Regions from separate parts of the Homo sapiens genome. Here region 1 is linked to region 2. Evidence: fine-mapped expression QTL. A gene starts in region 2. The other region holds a variant in brackets. All regions are shown on one strand. Distances are from middle to middle. Region 1 overlaps CNTNAP1 (contactin associated protein 1). Region 2 holds the start of DHX8 (DEAH-box helicase 8).

The links. PIP is the estimated chance that this variant, and not a neighbour inherited with it, causes the effect.
Region 1: its variant is the best candidate, but not a certain one, in a credible set for the expression of DHX8 in sun-exposed skin (GTEx, PIP 0.87).

What each region holds. Positions count from the first base shown.
Region 1 is chr17:42,694,999-42,699,232 of GRCh38, forward strand. CNTNAP1 (contactin associated protein 1) reads left to right here. Exons shown (of 24, transcript NM_003632.3): 19 at 523-876; 20 at 1,027-1,154; 21 at 2,276-2,369; 22 at 2,556-2,801; 23 at 2,905-2,952; 24 at 3,620-4,234. The coding sequence ends at 3,912. Among named protein-coding and RNA genes, the nearest start is that of MIR6780A, 11 kb to the right of the region's middle. RefSeq lists a cis regulatory region at 3,705-4,234 and an enhancer at 3,705-4,234. The variant G/C (reference allele first, on the strand shown) is at 1,820.
Region 2 is chr17:43,482,027-43,486,260 of GRCh38, forward strand. DHX8 (DEAH-box helicase 8) reads left to right here and starts at 1,949. Exons shown (of 23, transcript NM_004941.3): 1 at 1,949-2,159. The coding sequence starts at 2,012. RefSeq lists enhancers at 1,642-2,484, 1,784-2,213.

The DNA of each region.
Region 1 (4,234 bases), 790 kb before region 2:
CAGTGGCATGATCTTGGCTCACTGCAACCTCTGCCCCCTGGGCTCAAGCAATTCTCCTGCCTTGGCTTTCCTATAGTAGCTGGGATTACAGGCATGCACTACCACACCTAGCTAAGTTTTGTATTTTTAGTAGAGATGGGGTTTTGCCATGTTGGCCAGGCTGTTCTCGAACTCCTGACCTCAAGATGATCTGCCTGCCTTGGCCTCCCAAAGTGCTGGGATTACAGGTGTGAGCCACTGTGCCTGGCCTTACTGCGTGTCTTTAAGCAAGTCACTACTCATCTCTGAGCCTGTTTCCCCATTTGTAAAATGCAGGGGTTGGATCAGATGATCTCCAGTTTCCCATGGCTGTAAGATTCTGTTCTGTGACAGAGGGGCTCAAGGGGACCTAAAAGTAAATGGAGGGTTGTGAGGGTGGCAGAAACTGAAGTAAGTCTCAGGATGTGTGTATGGATGACATAAAACCTCTGAATTGGGGAGTGAGCAGTGTGGGGGCCCTAACCTCCCTGCTTCTACCTGCAGATATTGGTGGTTTCTTTGAGCCGGGCACCTGGATGCGCTATAACCTACAGTCAGCGCTGCGCTCTGCAGCCAGGGAGTTCTCCCACATGCTGAGCCGGCCAGTGCCAGGCTATGAGCCTGGCTACATCCCGGGCTATGATACTCCGGGCTATGTGCCTGGCTACCATGGCCCCGGGTACCGCCTGCCCGACTACCCCCGGCCTGGTCGGCCTGTGCCCGGTTACCGTGGGCCTGTCTACAACGTTACGGGAGAGGAGGTCTCCTTCAGCTTCAGCACCAGCTCCGCCCCTGCTGTCCTGCTCTACGTCAGTTCCTTTGTTCGTGACTACATGGCTGTGCTCATCAAGGATGATGGTAAGCTCTCCCGGGCTCTCTCACCCCACTCCAGCTTCACCCCGGTGCCCCTAATTCTCCTATTGATTCACAAATACAAGGACCCACGTGCTGTTAGAAGATAGGAGTCATGGGGCCTGAGACCCCAAATTTCTTCTCCCCACCCCACAGGGACCCTTCAGCTGCGATATCAGCTGGGCACCAGTCCCTACGTGTACCAGCTAACCACTCGACCAGTGACCGATGGCCAGCCCCATAGCATCAATATCACCCGTGTTTACCGGAACCTCTTCATCCAGGTATGCATAGAGGGAGGTGAGCCAGTTCAGATCATAACCTCATGGTCTCCGTTGTGGCATCCAGGAAAACATCAAATACTTAATATTTGTAGATCACATTTGAATGTATAGAGGATTTTCACGTGTGTCACCTCATGTAACCCTCACAATAGCTCCAAGGGGACAATAGGCATTTTTTTTTTTTTTTTGAGATGGAATTTTGCTCTTGTTGCCCAGGCTGGAGTGCAATGGTGTGATCTCAGCTCACTGCAACCTCTGCCTCCCGGGTTCAAGCAATTCTTCTGCCTCAGCCTCCCGAGCAGCTGAGATTACAGGCATGCGCCACAACGCCCAGCTAATTTTGTATTTTTAGTAGAGACAGGAGTTCTCCATGTTGGTCAGGCTGGTCTCGAACACCCGACCTCAGATGATCCGCCTACCTCAGCCTCCCAAAGTGCTGGGATTATAAGCGTGAGCCACCGCGCCCAGCCAGACAATAGGCATTCTTATTTAAGTGTTTTACAAATCAGTAAAGAGCCTCAGAAAGTAAAGCGGTTTCAGCTACTCAGGAGGGTGAGGCAGGAAAATTGCTTGAACCTGGGAGGTGGAGGTTGCAGTGAGCTGAGATCGTGCCACTGCACTCCAGGCCTAGGCGACAGAGTGAGACTCCATCTCAAAAAAATAAA[G/C]TGGTTTACCCAAAGTCAAACCGCTGGTAAGCTGCAAAGATGGGGCTTAAAACCAGGGTTTTAAAAAATATATAGGCCAGGTGCAGCGGCTCACACCTGTAATCCCAACACTTTGGGAGGCTGAAGTGGGAGGACTGCTTGAGGCCAGGAGTTTGAGACCAACCTGAGCAACATAGCAAGACCTCATCTTCACAAAGAAAAATATTTAATAAATAAAATAAAATAATAATAATAAAAATATATATACCAAATCCTACATCTAGGCCCAGGGGTTGCCCACTTCAGATTGAGCTAGGACTCACCCAGCTGGCACCGCCAGTTTGGACAGAATGAGAGATCTCCAGTATCTGCCCCCAAGTATATTCCCAGGGTCCACACAGTTCCAGTCCAGCCCACAGGCATCTGCTTCTGGTCCCCGCTCCCTCATCGCCCTCCCCCTCCCCCTCCCCACCTCAGGTGGACTACTTCCCACTGACAGAGCAGAAGTTCTCGCTGTTGGTGGACAGCCAGTTGGACTCACCCAAGGCCTTGTATTTAGGGCGTGTGATGGGTAAGCTGCGGGTGCGGACGCGTTTTAGGCAAGGAGCTGTGGCATATGTTCCTGGATCCTCAAGGAAAGTGAAGGCCCTGGGAATGGCTGAGGGCAGTGGGAAGGATGAGTGGGAAACCTGTGGACAGTGAGAGTGGCAGGGCCTTTGGGTCCAAGTCCCTCTTTCTGGGCCTGCCTCTCTCTCAGAGACAGGAGTCATTGACCCGGAGATCCAGCGCTACAACACCCCAGGTTTCTCAGGCTGCCTGTCTGGTGTTCGATTCAACAACGTGGCTCCCCTCAAGACCCACTTCCGAACCCCTCGACCCATGACTGCTGAGCTAGCTGAGGCCCTTCGAGTTCAGGGAGAACTGTCCGAATCTAATTGCGGAGCTATGCCACGTCTTGTTTCAGAGGTGCCACCTGAGCTTGATCCCTGGTATCTGCCCCCAGGTACATTCCCAGGACACAGAGGACAGAAGGGAGGGATGACACGGAAGGGAATGATTCTTAACATGGAGGAGGCATCTCCTAACTGGTGCTTTCTCCTCTCCAGACTTCCCCTACTACCATGATGAAGGATGGGTTGCCATACTTTTAGGCTGTGAGTAGCACTGATCACTAAGCTGACCTCCCAAGACTACCCTCTGACTGTCAGCATCCTTTCCCTGCCCCTGATCCCCAAGGCTGCAGGATGGCAAAGGCACTAGATGCACAATGGCACAAAGGATGATGAGACAGGCTATGCTGAAGGTGCCATATAACTGGGCAGAGATTTTTAGATGTTTGAGGATGAGACAGGCTATGCTGAAGGTGACATATAACTGGGCAGAGATTTTTAGATGTTTGAGGATGCTACAGATTTTTAAATAAAATATTAAAATGAGACTATAGCTAAGGGATGGGAAAATGGGGATACAGTAACACCTAGAGAGATAAGAAATTGGGGTAACTACCAGGGATGTGGAAAGAGAATATTAGAAACAGAAGGTGGCAGGGGGTAAGCCAGGAATTCAAACCTGCCAGACACTTGAGATGAGTTTAGTGTGGTCGAACAGCTAACTGAGGGTCATACATTATGCTTTTGGCCAAAAGTAAATGTGTGTGTGTGTGTGTGTGTGTGTGTGTGTGTGTGCAGGTGAAATCCCAAAGTGTGTGTATGTATACAGGTGAAATCTCAAAGAGTGCGTGTGTGTGTGTGTGTGTGTGTGTGTGTGTGTGTATACAGGTGAGATCCCAAAGATCTGAATTGTCCCTTTTCTTCTTTTCAGTTTTGGTGGCCTTTCTGCTGCTGGGGCTGGTGGGAATGTTGGTGCTCTTCTATCTGCAAAATCATCGCTATAAGGGCTCCTACCATACCAATGAGCCCAAGGCTGCCCACGAGTACCATCCTGGCAGCAAACCTCCCCTACCCACTTCAGGCCCTGCCCAGGTCCCCACCCCTACAGCAGCTCCCAACCAAGCTCCAGCCTCAGCCCCAGCCCCAGCCCCAACTCCAGCCCCAGCCCCTGGCCCCCGGGATCAGAACCTACCCCAGATCCTGGAGGAGTCCAGGTCTGAATGAGTCAGAAGGGCTTCTGGGACCAATTCCAGCTCCTGACATTCCCCCAGTCCTGCCTCTCCCCCATCCTATCAGGGACATTTGGCTCCTCTTAGCTGGCTCTGCTCATCCAGAGGATATTCCCCCATCCCCCCCCCATCAAGTTTGGTGGGCAGAGCTACAGATGGGACCCAAGGGAGTGGCCGAGCCTCACTGCCTAAACCAATGCCCTTCTCATCCCTGTTTCCCCAGGCTCCTGGCTGTTTATCTGCCCCAAAGGAGAAGCCTCATGGGGTTGACATAGGTCCTTTCTGCCATCTCTGTTCCAGCTGCTGTCAGGGATTAA
Region 2 (4,234 bases):
AACATCAGATAGAATAAGCCCTTGAAATCGTAACTCCAAGCTGGCAAATTGAGCACATTGGATCAAGTGCAGAGTTTTCCATTCTATTCATGGGGAGAAAGAGGAAGCGAAATGGGGAGGGGTAGGAAGAACTCAGAGGGTTTAGTAGTGATTCCTTAGGAACCTGGAAACCTGGAGCTTCTGGAGACAGTGAGAACAATGGCTGGGTTTTTCTCTGCCTGTCATTTTTCAGTCCATGATGAGATGTTGAAGAAACAGAGTCCAAAGGTACACCAGTGTAAAAATGTTGCCAAAGTGAAAAGTGGGAGACTGATTTCCTCCTTCCGATTGATTGGAGAGCCATTCACTTTAGGGTGCTTCTGTTTCCTTACTCATCACACAGAGCACTGGAGTGTGGGAAAAATCCCCATCCCACATTAAGGTTGCCACAAAGGTAAAAAAGACCTGAAGCAGAAGTTGGGAGACCTGAGCTTATGACCTTGGACTTACAGCACAGCTGATATTTGGGGGAATAAGGTTTGTTGTTGTTTTTGTGTGTGTGTTTTGTTTGTTTGAGACGGAGTCTCACTCTGTCGCACAGGCTAGAGTGCAGTGGCGAGATCTCAGCTCACTGCAACATCCACCTCCCAGGTTCAAGCAATTCTCCCGCCTCAGCCTCCCTAGTAGCTGGGACTACAGGCACATACCATCACGCCCAGCTAATTTTTGTATTTTTAGTACAGACGAGGTTTCACCATGTTGGCCAGAGTGGTCTTGAACTCCTGACCTCAAGTGATCCGCCCGTCTCGGCCTCCCAAAGTGCTGGGATTACAGGGGTGAGCCACAGTGCCCAGCCCCTGGGGGAATAAGTTCTGAGAGGACACAGGAAAACTGGGGATTGAAAAGCAGGTTTTCACAAGAGTGGAGGCAGCTGGCTCTGTGGGTTCCCAGACTAAGGGGATCTGTGCTTGACAGACCAGAGGCCAGTTCTGTGACCATCATCTCAGCCTTGAATTTTTTTTTTTTTTTTTTTGAGACAAAGTCTCACTCTGTCGCCCATGCTGGAGTGTAGTGGTGTGAACTCAGGTCACTCCAACCTCTGCCTCCTGGGTTCAAGCGATTCTTGTGCCTCAGCCTCCCGAGTAGCTGGGACTACAGGCGCCCACCACCACCACGCCCGGCTAAGTTTTCTATTTTTAGTAGAGATGGAGTTTCGCCACGTTGGCCAGGCTGGTCTGGAACTCCTGACCTCAAGTGATCCACCAGCCTCGGCCTCCCAAAGTGCTGGCATTACAGGCGTGAGCCACTGCACCCGGCCTAGCCTTGTGATATTAACAGTAACTGTCATTTGCGGTGTGCCTACTCTGTGTCACACTCCTTGCAGTTATTCCATTTAGGGTAGAGCAACATTATTCTAGTTTACAGATGAGAAAACTAAGGCCCCAGAGATTGATTTGCCCAAGCAGCCAGCTGGCAGTGGAAGTGCCAGTTTCTTCGTGTGTAAAACAAGAGAAGGCAATCTACTGCCTACTGGCTTGTCAAGGGTCACTTGAGATCGGACGACAGGAACCACAAAGAAGTGAGGCCGGGAATTTGCGGATCCACAGTAAAGCAAGTTTGTCTTTTTCCAGACGTGCATTAAGATTCCTTTTTCAAGTGTTCTAAAGCGCAGGCGCAGGCTGTTTTGCGGTTGCCTCCCGGCGCCTCTTGTGCAGGCCGGGGTCGCCCTCTGCCGACCCAGGGCGGGAGCGCGCTGAGTGAACGTTTCCAGGCCTGAGGGCGGGCGGAGATTTTTCTCGCCTGTAGAGGGCGCAGATCGGCGTGCAGAGTAACCCACTCTAGTTGTCCCTTCCTTAAGCACTTCCTGTTTGATCTCTATGATCCATCCTGTTGGGACTTGATTCGTTCCTCAAATTTTCAATTTACCGTAAACAAAGGGGACGCGCGCTGACCCGGAAGTGAAAGCTGGAACCCGGCCGGAGTAGCTCTGAGCGCCGGCTGTGAGGAAGGAGGTTCTGGGCAAGCTATAGCCATGGCTGTGGCTGTAGCCATGGCGGGAGCCTTAATCGGGTCGGAGCCAGGCCCCGCGGAAGAACTTGCCAAACTCGAGTACCTGTCTTTGGTGTCAAAGGTTTGCACTGAGCTGGACAATCACTTGGGGATCAACGACAAGGACCTTGGTGAGCTCGGGGAGGTCCCTGGGACCTCAGTTTGGGATTGAGGGAAGCGGAAGGAGGAAGGAGGAAGGAGAAAGGTGGTTGATGGACCGAAAGTATGTTCGTGTGAATCTGTCTCTCTCTGTCGCAGACACCGGTGCCCAGGGTACACGCTGCCGTGGCCTCGGCTTGAGAGCCCTCGAGAAACTTTAGAAACTTTCCCAGAGCTGTCAGTGAAGCCCGGGGCGGTCATCTCTGCTTGATTGTTTTTTGTTTGTTTTTTCAGCCTCAATTAAACATGTTTAACAACAACAGCAGCAGATGCTGCGATGACGACGATGATGGCTGACGTTTATTGGGTGCTCACTATGTGCTAGATGCGATGCTCAGCTCTTTATTGACATTATTTTATTTGGTCTTCACGCCACTCTGTGACATAGTAGTTAGCGTCTGTGCTTTTAACTGTGTTCTTTGACCGTTCATCCTGTACTCTTTTTTGAGGCAGGGCCTCGCTCTGTTTCCCGGGCTGGAGTGCAGTGGCACGATCTCGGCTCACTGCAGCCTCCACCTCCTGGGCTCAAGCAGTCCTCCCACCTCAGCCTCCCGAGTAGCTGGGACTACAGGCGGGCGCCACCAAGCTCGACTCATTTTTAAATTTTTTGTAGAGACGGGGGTCTCACTGTATTGCCCAGGCTGGTCTCGAACTTCTGGGCTCAAGCAGTCCTCTTCCCTCGGCCTCCCAAAGTGTTGGGATTACAGGCGTGAGCCATTGCGTCCTGTACTATGTCTTAAACACCAGTCACTAGATGTTTTGGGGCAAACTACATCTGGGGAGCCGAAACTGAGGAATTAGAAAAGGCTAGGGTCCTAAAGCTAAAGCCATAGACAGATGGAGCCTTTATGAAGGTACAGAGGATGGATGGGATCAAGGGCAACCAATGGATGGATTGACCTTTGGTACGTACAGCAAGGCTTCTTCAGTTGTAACAGGAGCGAGGACAGAGAATACAGTTGCAGATTCAGATGAGTTTAGAGATTGGTGGTGGGAAGATGAGTGAGAGAGTTCCAGCCCACTCTTCAGTTTCCTAAATGAAGATAAAGTCATCAACCGGAGGGATGGAAGGGAAGGGGCAGGTGACAGGAGGGGTTAGGGAAGTTAGACGAGTGACCTTTGGTAAGATTCATAGTTTCTCTGAAGCTGTTTTTCTCATCTGTGAAGTGGGACGATGTCTTCACAGGGTCACCATATAGCATTTAGGAAGATGCCCTGCAGCCAGTATATTTTAGTTTACTTTTTTCTCTTGCCTCCCAGCCAAGATGTGTCTGTCCTATATAACTTTTCCCGCAGGATTCTTCTCTTTTAGTTGATAATGAGGTGATAATTTCGTCGGTTTTGCTATCTCGTTAATATGTTTCCTTTATTCAGCAAATATTGAGCTGGGGGCTAGGCATACCACAGAGAACAAGACAGATTTCTGCTTTCAGGGAGCTTACCTTTCTCTCTGTTTTCATTTTAACTCCTAATACCTTGGCCTTTTAGAAGAAACAAAAAAGTTATTGACATTAACCCCCAGTGTTTAATTGTTTTGATGTTAACTTCATTTGTGTACAAAAATAGAGCGAAGTATAAACTTCATAATCTTTTAGTTTATTTATAGCTAAAGATCTCAATTAATTTGCAGAAAACCCACAAATATGCTTTTTCTGTTACATACAGAATTATAAAACCAGTAACATTAAAAGTACTAACATTGGCTGGGTTTGGTGGCTCACGCCTGTAATCCCAGCACTTTGGAAGGCCAAGACAGGCCGATCCCCTGAGGTCAGGAGTTTGAGACCAGCCTGGCCAACATGGCGAAACGCCATTTCTACTAAAAAAAAAAAATACAAAAATTAGCTGGCCATGGTGACTGGTGCTATGCAGGAGGCTGAGGCAGGAGAATCGCTTGAACTCAGGAGACGGAGGTTTCAGTGAGCTGAAATCACATCACTGCACTCCAGCCTGGACGAAAAGAGCAAGACTTTATTTCAAAAAAAAAAAAAAAAAGTACTAATATTGGTTTAATGCAATAGACAGTGTCTTTTGTTGAAACTAAATT